Regions from separate parts of the Homo sapiens genome. Here region 1 is linked to region 2. The links come from fine-mapping of genetic effects on gene expression. A gene starts in region 2. The other region holds a variant in brackets. All regions are shown on one strand. Distances are from middle to middle.

What was found.
Region 1: its variant is fine-mapped to the expression of NOL8 in whole blood (TOPMed, PIP above 0.99).

Annotation. Positions count from the first base shown.
Region 1 is chr9:92,210,055-92,218,391 of GRCh38, forward strand. IARS1 (isoleucyl-tRNA synthetase 1) reads right to left here. Exons shown (of 34, transcript NM_002161.6): 34 at 153-835. The coding sequence ends at 753. LOC112268048 (a long non-coding RNA gene) reads left to right here. Exons shown (of 2, transcript XR_002956919.2): 2 at 1-104. Among named protein-coding and RNA genes, the nearest start is that of LINC00475, 73 kb to the left of the region's middle. RefSeq lists an enhancer at 4,321-5,217. The variant T/C (reference allele first, on the strand shown) is at 5,006.
Region 2 is chr9:92,320,632-92,328,953 of GRCh38, forward strand. It overlaps NOL8 (nucleolar protein 8), which reads right to left and starts at 4,719. Exons shown (of 17, transcript NM_017948.6): 1 at 4,675-4,719; 2 at 3,392-3,578; 3 at 2,810-2,872; 4 at 1,037-1,115. The coding sequence starts at 3,530. It overlaps CENPP (centromere protein P), which reads left to right and starts at 5,322. Exons shown (of 8, transcript NM_001012267.3): 1 at 5,322-5,474. The coding sequence starts at 5,368. RefSeq lists enhancers at 4,001-4,889, 4,668-4,787, 4,818-4,927.

The DNA.
Region 1 (8,337 bases), 110 kb before region 2:
TGTCAGACCCACACTGCAGTCTGAAGGCTCTCTCGACCTACGCTTGCTCCATCTCCCGTTTATCCTCCATTTATGTTTCCTCTAATAAATTCTTGCACATCTAACTTTGTCATGTCATCTGCTTCTCTGAGGACTCAAATTATCACCTGGGATTTTGGAAAGAAGTTTTATTAGATGTCTAGTCCACTGTCTTAATAAGAAACCACCATGAAGTTTTTATGTTCTTCAAAGTTTACACATTTCAAGTTTCATTTATCTATGGGAGAATGAATTACTTTCAACACATTTATATCTGAGTTTGTTTATTGTTCTGATTTACTGAAACTTAAAATATTCCATCAAATTATCCAGGAAAATCCAGGTGGCAGAAATATATAATATGTCCATTTCATCAAGAGGTCTCAAATAAATTTTAAAAGGCCAGAAAATGATATATATACTATGCCATTTAAATCACTTCTATCTTCTGTACTTAAGAACTCAAGTATAGAAATAAACTGTGGGCTGAAGTAACATTGTAACCTGCTCCCAACATGACTGCATAGGTGTCTAAGGTTAAGTGTGAAGATTACTGTGAGGTCTCAAGTTACTTGACTAATCAATCCCATTTGAATTTCAATCCAAGCAGCATATTTTACACACACCTGAAGGAAATATCTTCAGTGTGTTCATGTGTGTGTCTATGTGCATGTATGTGTAGGGGATAGGTGTAATTAGGGAAGGGCTGACCGAACAACATTGATAAGTACATGCTAGAAGTCTGCTGTTGTTGGTAACACAGAAACATACACAGTCTTCATATTCAAAGTCTTCACGGGGATGTCTTCTGTAATTTCTAGAATGGAAAGAAAAAGTTGAAAAAAAATCAGTATTTTACCTATTGGGGGTGAATATTTAAAAAAATGTTAACTGCTTGTGTAGTAAGGAATTTGGCCTTATCCTAAGAGTTCTGCCTTTTGTCCCAGCTCCTGAGGTGAACCTCTAAATCCTTGGAATTTCCTGGTAGGAATCTTTGTTTCTCATGGTGGGTATGTTCACCAAACCTGACAGTTGTTGCTAATGAGACAATTCAGGGTAGTGCTGGCCAGGACAGAAAGACCAAGTATATGATTTAGGATGGGGACTTTGGGTCACATGGTATATCAGTTGAGAAAGACAGCAATCATGCCTACAGAATGAAACCTCAACAGAAACTGGACACCAAGGCTCGAGTGAGCTTCCCTGGTTGGTAATATAGTCTCTGTGTTGTCAGATGTAAGGGATGAGAGGAAGAAACATTATCCATGACTCCAGGGTCTCTCTCTCTCTCTCACTCTCGCTGGTTCTAACGTGTATCCTTTCCCTACCCTAATTCAAACCATGAGTGTAATACCTTTTAGTGAGTCTGAGTCCTCCTAGCAGGTTACTGAACCTGAGGGTGGTTTAGGAAAATCCCTGGAACTTGCAGTTGGTGCCAGCAGTGATGGGGGTCTTGTGTGGATCTTTCCCTGAGTAGAATCCTCACTCCTTGCAGGTGGAGTTAGATATCGGGCAGACTCCTGGAGCCTTCTGGAGGACTATGCCATCACTTCACAGTTTGGCTAACTCTGGGTACTGCCAAGATGGTTATTTTTCCTCATACACAGATACTTCCTATGTCTACAAAAAAAGCCTAGAGGCTGTGCCAACTCAGTATCCCAGATATGTGGTTTCAAAATATGATTCTCTATAATTTGAAGAACAGCTATTTTCTACGTCTGGAGAAGTAAAAGTACATAATAAGCCTAGGACATGTTGCTACGTGAGAAAGCAAGAATTTACCAAAGACAAAGGATCATGTTAAAGAATACAGGATCCAATATGGCCAATGACGAAAACTCTGAGCATCCAAAAATATAACCCAAATGCAATTGATTGAAATATACTGAATATACAACTCAAAAACAAAAAAAAAGAAAATTTAAAGTTATCTGCCTACTGTGGAGCATTTTGCTTCTAGTCAGATCTGAATTTAAAGCAAACAGATGAGCTTCCTTTAAAAATAGCTCTTGTCCTACCTAGCAGCAATCCTAGATGTGAGAATACTCTCAAAGCTACTTCCTTAATAGATAATTACAGGACCTGGAGATGATGTTTAGAGTTTAGTGGAGCAAGCAAGAAGACATCTAAGGGTTTCTAAAATGGTCAACATTTTGTGGCTCTTCTAATTTACCAAGTTATTGATACTTTATGAAAGACAATTCTGAGAGAAAAGGCATAATGAAAACGAAGCTATAGATACTAGATTGGAAAGATACTGAATTAGAAAAAGTTCCAACTTTGTGGTAATCTTAGATAAATCACTAAACATTTAAAAGTTCTCACCCACTAAACTTTTGCCTAACTAACGTCACAGAGTAAAGAGAATACAGAAAGGCAGCACAGGTTAAGAATGGTTCTGTGAATTGCAGGTAGTATTATAAATACATAATTCATACAGACATGGTTCTACCCCTGACCAGGTTCAATCATGCCACTGCATTTGCTTGCAAGAACAAGTGAGAGATAAATGTCATCTTCAGCTCCACTGCACAACAGTACTTGGTGACCAAAGGATTTGAGGGACAAGAAGAGTTAAGAATTATCTCTAAAGTTTTATATAAGCTTATCAAAATAGAAAGCTACATTATTAGATGATCTTTACTACCATACCACAATGAAAGAGCCAAGTGTGTTCGAGGGAGAGTGAAAAAAGCCTTTGATAGAGTGAAAGACTCATGGACAGAATTAGCAAGACAGGGAAGGCCCAGAGCAGGAAGGATCTTGTGTGGAAGGGAAGATTCTGAGGCATAAGAGAATAAGGAGCTTTGGGGGCTCTAAGCAAGGGAACAAAATCAAGGCAGGAATGTTCATGAAGATAGCTCTGGTGAAGAGTACAGACTGCAGACTGGTGACTTAGATGGATGATGAGGCCCAATGATGAGATGAGAGGGAAAACGACAAAGGAGAGTCACTGAAAATAAACCCAGGGAGGGAAGGAGGAACCCAAGAAGAAATAGAGCTTTAGTATTTAACATCATGACAGAAAATTTAAAAGTACGATATGCAACTAAATTTAAAAAAAAAAGCTGCACAGGAAGAAAACGGGAGAATTACACAGAGGCCAAAAATAATGACTCCCATGGGGTCTGGTGGCTTAATGCTTTTGGCACTAAAGAGCTAGGAAAGCAGGGAAAGAAAAGCCTCCGGTATATACAAACCGGGAAGTCCAACAAATCTCTGCTGAAGAAACTGGAACTTCAAATAAGAAACCCATAGCAAAAGGGTTAATTTGAGTAAGTTCCTTCACCACAAGAGAAAAAGTGAAGAGAATGTAATCGGTTAATAATGGCCTTCCAAAGATATGCCCAGGTTCTAAATTCCCAGGAGCTGTGAATGTTCACTTTATTTGGAAAAAGAGGAAACAGAAGAGAAGGAGGCAATGTGACCACGGAGTCAGAGACTGAAGTGATGTGGCCACAAGTCAAGGGATGCCTGGCGCCACCATAAGCTAGAAGAAGTATATAAGGAATTCTCCCACAGAGCCTTCAGAGAGACTGTGGCCTTTCTGACACCCTAATTTCAGTGTCTGGCCTCCAGAGCTGTGAGATGACTTGAGCCATCCCATTTGTGGAAATTTGTTGCAGCAGCCACAGAAACCAATACAGAGAAAATCACCTCACTTAGCTTTGTTTTGGAGTAGGGATAGACAGATCCTGTCTCCATCACAACTCCTGGCCTTTGTGTATGACTGGGAATGCCATAGATTTTTTTTCTGAGATGGAGTTTAACTCTTGTCGCCCAGGCTGGAGTGCAGTGATGCAATCTCAGCACACTGCAACCTCTGCCTCCCAGGTTCAAGAGATTCTCCTGCCTCAGCCTCCCAAGTAGCTGGGATTACAGGCATGTGCCACCATGTCCAGCTAATTTTAGTAGAGATGGGGTTTCACCATATTGGCCATGCTGGTCTTGAACTCTGCCCACCTCAGCCTCCCAAAGTGCTGGGATTACACGAGTGAGCCACCACGCAGACCCAGTCACAGCTTTCTTAACATTCTCCCTATGGTCCAAAATGATTGAGTTTAAAGTGTGTCTGGGTTGTCAGTGTCTCCAAGGAACTAGACGTATGCTTCTTAAAACTGGGCTTCAACAGAAACATAACAGAACAAGCAGAGCAGACGGGCAATGTAAACAGAAAGACGGAAACTCAAAGAATAGAATGGTCTGGGTGTGGTGGCTCACCCCCGTAATCCCAGCACTTTGGGAGGCCCAAGTGGGTGGATCACCTGAGGTCAGGAGTTTGAGACCAGCCTGGCCAACATGGTGAAACCCTGTCTCTACTAAAATTACAAAAATTGGGGGAGGAGCCAAGATGGCCAAATAGGAACAGCTCCGGTCTACAACTCCCAGGGTGAGCGATGCAGAAGACAGTGATTTCTGAATTTCCATCTGAGGTACCGGGTTCATCTCACTAGGGAGTGCCAGACAGTGGGCGCAGGTCAGTGGGTGCACGCACCGTGCGCGAGCCGAAGCAGGGCGAGGCATTGCCTCACTTGGGAAGTGCAAGGGGTCAGGGAGTTCCCTTTCCGAGTCAAAGAAAGGGGTGACGGACGGCACCTGGAAAATTGGGTCACTCCCACCCGAATACTGCGCTTTTCCGATGGGCTTAAAAAACGGCGCACCACGAGATTATACCCCGCACCTAGCTCGGAGGGTCCTACGCCCACGGAGTCTCGCTGATTGCTAGCATAGCAGTCTGAGATCAAACTGCAAGGCGGCAGCAAGGCTGGGGGAGGGGCGCCCGCCATTGCCCAGGCTTGCTTAGGTAAACAAAGCAGCCGGGAAGCTCGAATTGGGTGGAGCCCACCACAGCTCAAGGAGGCCTGCATGCCTCTGTAGGCTCCACCTCTGGGGGCAGGGCACAGACAAACAAAAAGACAGCAGTAACCTCTGCAGACTTAAATGTCCCTGTCTGACAGCTTTGAAGAGAGCAGTGGTTCTCCCAGCA[T/C]GCAGCTGGAGATCTGAGAACGGGCAGACTGCCTCCTCAAGTGGGTCCCTGACCCCTGACCCCCGAGCAGCCTATCTGGGAGGCACCCCCCAGCAGGGGCACACTGATACCTCACACGGCAGGGTATTCCAACAGACTTGCAGTTGAGGGTCCTGTCTGTCAGAAGGAAAACTAACAAACAGAAAGGACATCCACACCAAAAACCCATCTGTACGTCACCATCATCAAAGACCAAAAGTAGATAAAACCACAAAGATGGGGAAAAAACAGAACAGAAAAACTGGAAACTCTAAAAAGCAGAGTGCCTCTCCTCCTCCAAAGGAACACAGTTCCTCACCAGCAACGGAACAAAGCTGGATGGAGAATGACTTTGACGAGCTGAGAGAAGAGGGCTTCAGACGATCAAATTACTCTGAGCTATGGGAGGACATACAAACCAAAGGCAAAGAAGTTGAAAACTTTGAAAAAAATTTAGAAGAATGTATAACTAGAATAACCAATACAGAGAAGTGCTTAAAGGAGCTGATGGAGCTGAAAACCAAGGCTCGAGAACTACGTGAAGAATGCAGAAGCCTCAGGAGCCGATGCGATCAACTGGAAGAAAGAATATCAGCGATGGAAGATGAAATGAATGAAATGAAGCGAGAAGGGAAGTTTAGAGAAAAAAGAATAAAACGAAATGAGTAAAGCCTCCAAGAAATATGGGACTATGTGAAAAGACCAAATCTACGTCTGACTGGTGTACCTGAAAGTGATGGGGAGAATGGAACCAAGTTGGAAAACACTCTGCAGGATATTATCCAGGAGAACTTCCCCTATCTAGCGAGGCAGGCCAACGTTCAGATTCAGGAAATACAGAGAACGCCACAAAGATACTCCTCGAGAAGAGCAACTCCAAGACACATAATTGTCAGATTCACCAAAGTTGAAATGAAGGAAAAAATGTTAAGGGCAGCCAGAGAGAAAGGTCGGGTTACCCACAAAGGGAAGCCCATCAGACTAACAGCAGATCTCTCGGCAGAAACCCTACAAGCCAGAAGAGAGTGGGGGCCAATATTCAACATTCTTAAAGAAAAGAATTTTCAACCCAGAATTTCATATCCAGCCAAACTAAGCTTCATAAGAGAAGGAGAAATAAAATACTTTACAGACAAGCAAATGCTGAGAGATTTTGTCACCACCAGGCCTGCCCTAAAAGAGCTCCTGAAGGAAGCGCTAAACATGGAAAGGAACAACCGGTACCAGCTGCTGCAAAATCATGCCAAAATGTAAAGACCATCGAGACTAGGAAGAAACTACATCAACTAACGAGCAAAATAAACAGCTAACATCATAATGACAGGATCAAATTCACACATAACAATATTAACTTTAAATGTAAATGGACTAAATGCTCCAATTAAAAGACACAGACTGGCAAATTGGATAAAGAGTCAAGACCCATCAGTGTGCTGTATTCAGGAAACCCATCTCATGTGCAGAGACACACATAGGCTCAAAATAAAAGGATGGAGGAAGATCTACCAAGCAAATGGAAAACAAAAAAAGGCAGGGGTTGCAATCCTAGTCTCGGATAAAACAGACTTTAAACCAACAAAGATCAAAAGAGACAAAGAAGGCCATTACATAATGGTAAAGGGATCAATTCAACAAGAAGAGCTAACTATCCTAAATATATATGCACCCAATACAGGAGCACCCAGATTCATAAAGCAAGTCCTGAGTGACCTACAAAGAGACTTAGACTCCCACACATTAATAATGGGAGACTTTAACACCCCACTGTCAACATTAGACAGATCAACGAGACAGAAAGTCAACAAGGATACCCAGGAATTGAACTCAGCTCTGCACCAAGCGGACCTAGTAGACATCTACAGAACTCTCCACCCCAAATTAACAGAATATACATTTTTTTCAGCACCACACCACACCTATTCCAAAATTGACCACATACTTGGAAGTAAAGCTCTCCTCAGCAAATGTAAAAGAACAGAAATTATAACAAACTGTCTCTCAGACCACAGTGCAATCAAACTAGAACTCAGGATTAAGAATCTCACTCAAAACCGCTCAACTACATGGAAACTGAACAACCTGCTCCTGAATGACTAATGGGTACATAACAAAATGAAGGCAGAAATAAAGATGTTCTTTGAAACCAATGAGAACAAAGACACAACATACCAGAATCTCTGAGACGCATTCAAAGCAGTGTGTAGAGGGAAATTTATAGCACTAAATGCCCACAAGAGAAAGCAGGAAAGATCCAAAATTGACACCCTAACATCACAATTAAAAGAACTAGAAAAGCAAGAGCAAACACATTCAAAAGCTAGCAGAAGGCAAGAAATAACTAAAATCAGAGCAGAACTGAAGGAAATAGAGACACAAAAAACCCTTCAAAAAATTAATGAATCCAGGAGCTGGTTTTTTGAAAGGATCAACAAAATTGACAGACCACTAGCAAGACTAATAAAGAAAAAAAGAGAGCAGAATCAAATAGACGCAATACAAAATGATAAAGGGGATATCACCACCGATCCCACAGAAATACAAACTACCATCAGAGAATACTACAAACACCTCTACGCAAATAAACTAGAAAATCTAGAAGAAATGGATAAATTCCTCGACACATACATTCTCCCAAGACTAAACCAGGAAGAAGTTGAATCTCTGAATAGACCAATAACAGACTCTGAAATTGTGGCAATAATCAATAGCTTACCAACCAAAAAGAGTCCAGGACCAGATGGATTCACAGCCGAATTCTACCAGAGGTACAAGGAGGAACTGGTACCATTCCTTCTGAAACTATTCCAATCAACAGAAAAAGAGGGAATCCTCCCTAACTCCTTTTATGAGGCCAGCATCATTCTGATACCAAAGCCAGGCAGAGACACAACCAAAAAAGAGAATTTTAGACCAATATCCTTGATGAACATTGATGCAAAAATCCTCAATAAAATACTGGCAAAACGAATCCAGCAGCACATTAAAAAGCTTATCCACCATGATCAAGTGGGCTTCATCCCTGGGATGCAAGGCTGGTTCAATATACGCAAATCAGTAAATGTAATCCAGCATATAAACAGAGCCAAAGACAAAAACCACATGATTATCTCAATAGATGCAGAAAAAGCCTTTGACAAAATTCAACAACCCTTCATGCTAAAAACTCTCAATAAATTAGGTATTGATGGGACATATTTCAAAATAATAAGAGCTATCTATGACAAACCCACAGCCAATATCATACTGAATGGGCAAAAACTGGAAGCATTCCCTTGGAAAACTGGCACAAGACAGGGATGCCCTCTCTCACCACT
Region 2 (8,322 bases):
GTTTCACTCCTGTTGCCCAGGCTGGAGTGCAATGGCACAATGTAGGCTCACTGCAACCTCCGCCTCCCAGGTTCAAGTGATTCTCCTGCCTCAGCCTCCCAAGTAGCTGGGATTACAGGAGCCCATGACCACAACCAGCTAATTTTTGTATTTTTAGTAGAGACGGGGTTTCACCACTTTAGCCAGGCTGGTCTTGAACTCCTGACCTCAGGTGATCCACCCGCCTCGGCCTCCCAAAGTGCTGGGATTACAGGCGTGAGCCACCGTGCCCGGCCTCTATCTGTATATTCTTAAATTGTTTCCTATTTTGAAAACTCCCCAACAATACCTTTTCTTCCTGAAAATACCTTTAGGATTTTAAAAGCTCTAATGGTTTTTATAATACATTGTCTTGCTCTTAAATCACTTGCATAATCACTCTTATGCCTGTCATACAGTGATCTCCTATTTCCTTTATATTTTGGTATGACACTAGCATTAACAGTCAAAATCAACATATGCAATTTAGTAGTCTACTAAAATTTAAATGCAGACAATGCTAAGATTCAGCAACTCCATTTTCTGATATAAACTGAGAGAAACACCTGCATATACATAGGATATGTGCTCCAGGATCATCTATGACCATGAAAAAGTAGAAACAGTCATCAGTGGGAAGGGACCACTACATTGTGGTATAACCATTTTCTGAAATACTACTAACAATTGTTATAAAGGGAGAAGATCTACATTGCCACAAAAGGGTGTGTTAACAAAGAGAAAATAAGTACATATATGCTTTTATAGCTCATTAACAGAGAAAATAAGTACATATATACTTTTATAGCTTATTACATACATACGTAAATGCATGAAATTATCCTTTTTGTTCGTCTGGGGTGAAGGGGATTCAGAGTTGAAAGGGATTTCAGCTCTACTTATATGTTTGAATTTGTTAAGAATATAATACTATATTACTTGATAATTTGAAATAATATATAAAACCACTTACAATATAAAAAAAATAGGGCTTAAATCCATGTGGAGCAAAACTTACCTGTGCAGAAAGCTTTCTTTTGCTAGTTGAATTTGTAATGTTCCACCTTTCCATTTTGTTTTATTTAAAACAGACATACCTATAAAGTAAAGAATTATTACAAGTACATGGCAATGTAAAAATATATTTCAGCTTGTGCTTTTTCTAATTATTTAGTATCAAGAAAAGCAGGCTTGTTTATCACAAAGAGATCCAGGGGAAGTGGAAGAAAAGAAATGAGACCTGGAGAGAGGGAGCCTAGGCTCTTGTTTCATCTTGACAACTTACCAAAAGAGTCTTTACACTCCCTATCTCACAGTGTTACTAGATTGGAATGAGGCAAAATGTGTAAAAAGTAAAGCAAAATTTATTTGCAATTTGTTTGTAAACAAATGTCAGGAACCTCTGAATAACTGATATTTAATGTATATTTTATTGTTATTTCCTGTAACTATAAAACATATATTTCCTGTAACTATAAAACAATCATCTTTTCAGGTGAATCAGAGGACACTCTGGAATCCTACAGCACCTTAATTTTATTTATCACCTCATACTAATTATCACTGTAGAACTTGCAGATGAATTAACTATGAGTGACTGAACTGTTTGAATTACTATGCCGTAGTAATTGATTTCTCTGAGCATCTGCCGTCAGCTTCCTTAATAATACCATTAACAGAATTTTGTAGGTGGTAGATACTGTACTAAGTACAAATTTATCTTTTCTTTTTGAGACAGAGTGTCCTTCTGTCGCCCAGGCTGGAGTGCAGTGGCACTATCTTGGCTCACTGCAACCTCTGCCTCCCTGGTGATTCTCCTGTCTCAGCCTCCCAAGTAGCTGGGATTACAGGTGTCTGCCACCACACCCAGCTAATTGTGGTATTTTTAGTAAAGATGGGGTTTCACCATGTTGGCCAGGCTGGTCTCAAACTCCTGACCTCAAGTGATCCACCTGCCTTAGCCTCCCAAAGTATTGCAAATGTATCATTTAATTTAATTCTCACAGAAATATTATGAGGCAAGCACTATCTTTTGTCATTCATCACATAAGCAAACTTGGGCTGAGAAGTTTAAGTAACTTGCCACAGGTCACAAAGCCTAGTTGATGTATTCTTAACCACAACTTCACATTTATCACATATATTCCTCAATGTAAAATAGAATAAAGCAATCTTTTCGCAAATGAAATTACAAAAGACTGATTGCCCTCTTCCTCTATTAGCGTGTTCCCTTTACTTATTTTCCGTGTCTTTTTTCACTTTTTGGCCTCCAAATAACTAGAATATGTTACTGTGTCAGCGGCAGTATGGATTATCTCCCATTCTTCATTGAAGGCCACTGTTTGCCCTTGACTTTACTAAACTTATCAACAAGAGATTTCACAATTTCAAGGATACGGTCTTACAAGGGTGTATTTTAAAGCCCCCTCAAGAGTGTTTAGTGACAAGGATTAGCTGTCAAAGAAATGATCAGACTGAGGGGGAATGTGGCATGATATTCAGTGGGATATATGTAACAGGCAGTTTCTATGAAAGTTTGGTCCCTTGTCCAAAATATTTGAGAATAGCAGTTTTAAGTAAACCCACCAGTAAAGTGCTACCATGTCTGCTGATGCCAAATGGAATGGACCTAAACCTGCTGAGTTATACGATACTGGAATTCTCTTCATCACTGCTGTCCCTCTGGATAACGTGAAAAATGGCTGTGGAGGTTTAGATTTAGAACCAGTTATTCCAAGTTACAGAGTCATACAAACTGGCAAACAGTATAGAAAATATATGATGATCTTACATTTTTTCAGGTCCGCTTCTGCTACACTGATGTTGATATATGCAAAAACTTTCTGTGGGTTTCCTAAAAAACAAACAAACAAACAAACAAAACAATTTATTTAAATTCTTATCCAGAGAGCAATGTAAAAACGGTTGTTTCTAAATTAAAAAAAAAAATAGCTCTTGAAAACTTATTATTTCAAAGATAAACCTTGTTTTTTATTGGCTATAAAAATAAGCATAATTATCAAAATATTCCAAAAAAAAAAAGAAGAAAATGTCCAGTAGTCAGATAAGGAAACATTTTGATTGTATGCTAGTGATAGTCTACTTAACGGGACACTTAATCCATGTTAGAAAATTCTAGTTCTCAAAACTGGAAGTTAATATGTTTCTGAAATCAGATGTTTTAGAATTTGGAATTTTTTCTTATTTCAGAAACAAATTCTGGTCAAGTTCCACATCACACATTATACCTCCACAACATCACTTAAAACTTTTGGTGTTCAGAGCTAACATTTATCTTGGGGTTGTTTTATTTTCTAGCACTTAACCTGAGTTATGTCTGCCTATAACTGCCCAGTGAAGGACCATAAATTACCTTGGTCATCTTTCCGTGTGATGATCTCCACATCCGAAACTTCTCCAAATCTGCTGAACTGATTTTGTAGGTCTGCCTCAGAAATGTCCTGGCTAAGGCCACCCACATAAAGGCGCTTCGTTTCTCTGTTCACTTTCATGAAGGCTGGGCATATACTTGGGTGTGTTTCAGTGGGAAAAGTAATTTTCTGTATACAGAGAAGAGTTCTTTCCCTTAGTTCTTCTAAAATCTAACAAAACAACTACTTCCTCTGAACCTTCTGTATCAAATCCGTCTCCTGGATCTGTATTTCACTTCCTATTGTATTACTTCCAAATTTTAGTCTTCGAGGTTTTGCCCAAGCCCTACATCCACATCTTTCATGAATGCACTTTGGAACAGCAACCCCATACCCATATAGACACAGGTACAGACAGAGTTTTTTTCCTCCAAATGGCCATAATATTACACTCTATCCCTCTTAATTTTATGTATTCATGTTTTTAGATGTTTTTCCTTGACTCACTCATACATTCATTTACTGTCTTTAACAAAGTCTGACAGAAACAGGATGTAACGCACTAAAAGATAAAAAGAGCTAGCCTACCTCTTCCTAATTGTCTCCACCCCCAACCTACCCACCCCAGCCTTCTTCCTCCTAGAAGACCCAAAGAAGTGAATAGAGAGGCTAGGAGCTCCTTATAGTCACAAAAGAATAAAACAAATGGCACAATATTATGTCACAATAAAAGTGCTGCAAAGTGGGGTTCAGACACAAAGATCAAGGGATATAGCGAATACAGACTTGTGTTTTTGCTATGTGCCTGCATTGTACAAAGTAGTTTGCATGTTTCCCATTTTTCAGGAGAGCAGAAGAGGTTAAGTCACTTCCTCAATGCCATACCGAAAATTAGTGAATCCAGGATTATAATGCAGGTCTACCTTCAGAACTTGGAATTCTTAACACTATACTATGAAGGTTGCTGTATCACAGGGGACTCAGGAAAACTTTTCCAGAGGTACTAGGGCCCATCATAGTATCTCTCATTTCGTTTAGCACCCGGCAGGCGCTCAGCTCTCGCCCTTCCCTTCCCCAAGAGCTGACAGACTCTTTCCAGAAGAGACTCCCAACCAGCGTCCACCACATGGCGTGTATTCTGGGCAGAACTTCGGCCTACCTCTTCCCGATAGTCTCCGCCCCCAGCCTACCCACGGCAGCCTTCTTTCTCTGAGAAGACCCAAAGAAGTGAAGAGAGACTAGGAAACGGCCCTGTGACTTCTCATGCCCGAAACCCACTCCTCACCACGTCGTTCACCTAAAGCCAGCGCCGCTGCAGCCCCTAACTTCTGGTCACGTGTCCCAACGGAGCATCCTCTCTTCCTTCCTACTCGATTTCCAACCCAGCCTCCTAAGGTTCCGTTACCACAATTCAGTTCCCAAGAGCTTTTAATTTCCTTTTCCGTCCTCCCACCTTCCCTGACGCCTCCGTCACCTCCCCCTCAACGACTGCAAAAGAGCCTAAACCAAAATCCCCTAGTTTCTATTGAACACTATCGCTGTGTGTACCAATTCCTGGACTAGGTCGGCGTAAGAGAGGAAGTAGGTGAAAAAAATAAAGAGGCGCTCCCCTCCACGTGATCCCAGCCCTGCCTCTTTAGTGAGGCACGCGGCCGGGCGGCTCCAAGGCTGCCGGCTAGGGTGAGCAGCGGAGCGCTTGGGCTTGGAGTAGCAAAGAACGCGCTCTCCAGAGAAAGTATAGCCACTGCTTAGACAGCCAGGGAAACGTGTGCGGGGAAGTGGAGGACTCAGGCTCTCGTGCGAGAGCGGAGTTGGACGTGCAGGGCCGCTGGGGTCACGCGGAGCTCTCCCGCCTCCCCTCCGCGTGAGCTCTGGGATGGTCCGCGCCGGGAGCGCGCGCGAGGCTTGAAGCGCGGGTGAAGCGCGCAGGTCGGAGTGACAGCTGCGCTGCCGGCCCGGCTGCGGTCAGCAACGCGCCATGGACGCAGAGCTGGCAGAGGTGCGCGCCTTGCAAGCTGAGATCGCGGCCCTGCGGCGAGCGTGTGAGGACCCACCGGCGCCCTGGGAAGAGAAGTCCCGAGTCCAGTACGTGACCACCCCAAGTCCCCCAGGGCCCGCTGGCCAGGGTTCCCGGGCCAGGCGGGTGAATCTCCACAGACATCCTCGGTCTCCTACTCCCAGCCCTAGAAAGTGGGCATGAACTGGCATTGATCCTGTCATGACGATGGCCTAGAGTTGGGAGCAGCGCGTACGGCGCCCAGCTGTAAACGCATTGCAGGGTATTAACTCGTTTAATCGCAGTCGTCTGTGTGGATGACTGACAAGGAGGAAGTCTTGACTATATCCCTAGCTAGATAATTCCGCCTCCAGTATGCAGAAGTATCTCTAGTTGGGATTTAATAACTCCGTTTGGTTTCATGGCATTTGTTTTGGTAGGTCAGCTAACCATCTCAACTGATAATGACTTTGTGTTTACGATGACATAAAAATTCCTTTGAAAAATAACTTCGGTAAAAAACTAAGTTGATAAAAGAAAAGTAGTTAATATAGACTGCAGGAGAATTTGACATTCCTCTGAGGTAGGTGCTACTGTTAGCCCTGTTTTATAGTTGAAGAAACTGAGGCTCAGAGAAGTTAGGTAGCTTGTCCAAGGTTCCAGAGAAAGGAATTGTCAGAGATGGATTGGGACCCAAAAATTTTACTCCAAAGTCTGGGCACTTTTGGTTTATTGAAGGAGAGGGAGAGAAAAGCTCTGCAACCGTAATTATGTATTATCATCTCAAACATAGAAGCCTCTCGAAAACATAAACTGTCTTCAATTTTTGAGTCAAGAGTAATTTGACATAGGTGCAGAAAGAATGGGATTTTTCCTGAGCTAACTGGAGAAGAATTGGTAGAAAATGGGAAGGAGGAGATCTACAGAAAATGTCTGCGTGCGGTCATGAAAGTAGAGGAAGCTGTGACTGGTTAAAGGGAGAGGAAAAAGGTGTGCTCCTCCACAAATGAGAGTAAATGTATTAAAGACCCTTGCTATTTGAGGTGTGCTCCACAGATGGGACGCTTTAGCATTACCTGGCGGTTTGTTAGAGCGACATCCTGACCTACTGAATCAGAATCTGCATTTTAAAAAAATACACTGCCCTAACAGAGGATTTGTGTGCACACTTGGAAGTTTAAGAACCAGGGAAAAATAGTTTCTTTACTGGCCACAAGATTTCATTAGTCCCCATAGTAGTGTCAACTGAAAAATCATGAGATCTGCAAATTTAGAGAGACTATTTCTTAAAAAGGGTTACAGTCTGCAAAGTGGCCATCCTGACAGGCTAGGAAGCATAGTCTCAGGCAAAGCAGAAAGGCCCACACTTTGGAGGAGGAGGGGTTGGGGCAGGGATTTATGCTGTATGAGTGGGCTAGGTATACATATTCAACAGGTTATAGGAGGGGCTATGAATATTCACGAAGGGAGATGTGCTCACCTGTACTGAATAAAAATGCATATTACATGCACTCCATATTCATTTTGGGAAGCTGACTTAATATTTAAATGCATTACAATTAGGCCCTGTACGTCAAAAGTTGAAGGAGGGAAGCAAAGGTACTTAAGTACACAGGCCTTGTAAACCTGTTAGAACAAGTCCATGGTTGGTGATCTTATCAAAAGAAAATTTTTGAAATCATTCTCTTGTCCTATCAAAGCCTGTGGAACAGGGGAATCAGTTAGCATCTGGTGGTGGATGAACTGCAATTATTTCAATATTGCTTATCTGGAGGCCAGTGCTAGTGAAAAAAATATTGTGGCAGTTAGAACATAGTTCATTCTTTTAAAGGTAGGGGGTATGTGACTTAACCCTTGCCTGGCATGGCCTTAGGTCTTGTTTATAATTTGGTATCTTATTGCCACAGAGTCCGTTCTGCAACTCTTACGATCTCTATTTTAACATTAATGCTGGTCAGTTGTTGTGTCTACATCCCAAATAGGAAGGGGTATAACGAGGTGTGTCTGACCTCCCATCCTGTCATGGTTAAGAACTGAGTTTTTAAGGTTTCTTTGGGGTCCCCTTGACCAAGAGGGAGTCGGTTCAGGTGATTGTGGGGGTGGGGTAGGATTTTATTTTTAGTTCTTAGTAGATTATTTATATAATCTGGGACTTCTCAGTGGTTAAATTGGAAAGTCAGAAGAGTCCAGATTGTGGGAGACATTAAATGTCAGTCCAGGGTGTTTGGATTTAACCGTGAGGTTTCTTTTCACTATAGTGGAGGAGGAGGATTGGAACCTATGTACCAAGCTATTTTTTTAAGTGATTATAAGTGGTTGGATGGATTGGAGGTAGGAAAATTGGAGCTAAATTATTCAGCTATATCCATATGTCCACACTGTGGAGCCAAATTGCCTGCTTTCAAATCCTGTCTCTGCTATTGGCTGAGTGATCTTGGTTAAGTGAGCTCCCCCTTTCTGTGCTTCAGTTTCCTCCGTGGTAAAATTATACCCAAGTTTTTGGGTTGCTGTGAGGACTAATTGAGTTAATATATGTAGTTCATTTAGAAGAGTACTTGCCTCATAATAGTAACTAACACTCATTAGTAGACCATTGACCTTTAAACTCGTGTACAGATTGATTTTAAAGGAAAAAAAATTCTTGCAAGCTCCTAATTCTGACAAAAAATTTTTATGTTATGAGGACAAACTTACAAATAATAAAACCACAAAGTGAATAAAATTCAAACAAATCCAAAATAGCTCAAACTAACATCATTAGTTGAAATACACAAATATTTTGCTCAAACTAAATAACTGCTATGAATAAGAATATGCAGATTTTCTTTTTGTGGCAAAATATACATAAGATTTACTATTTTAACCATTTTTGAGCGTTCAGCTCAATGGCATTAAACACATGCACATTGTTGTACAGCCATCACCACTGTCCATCTT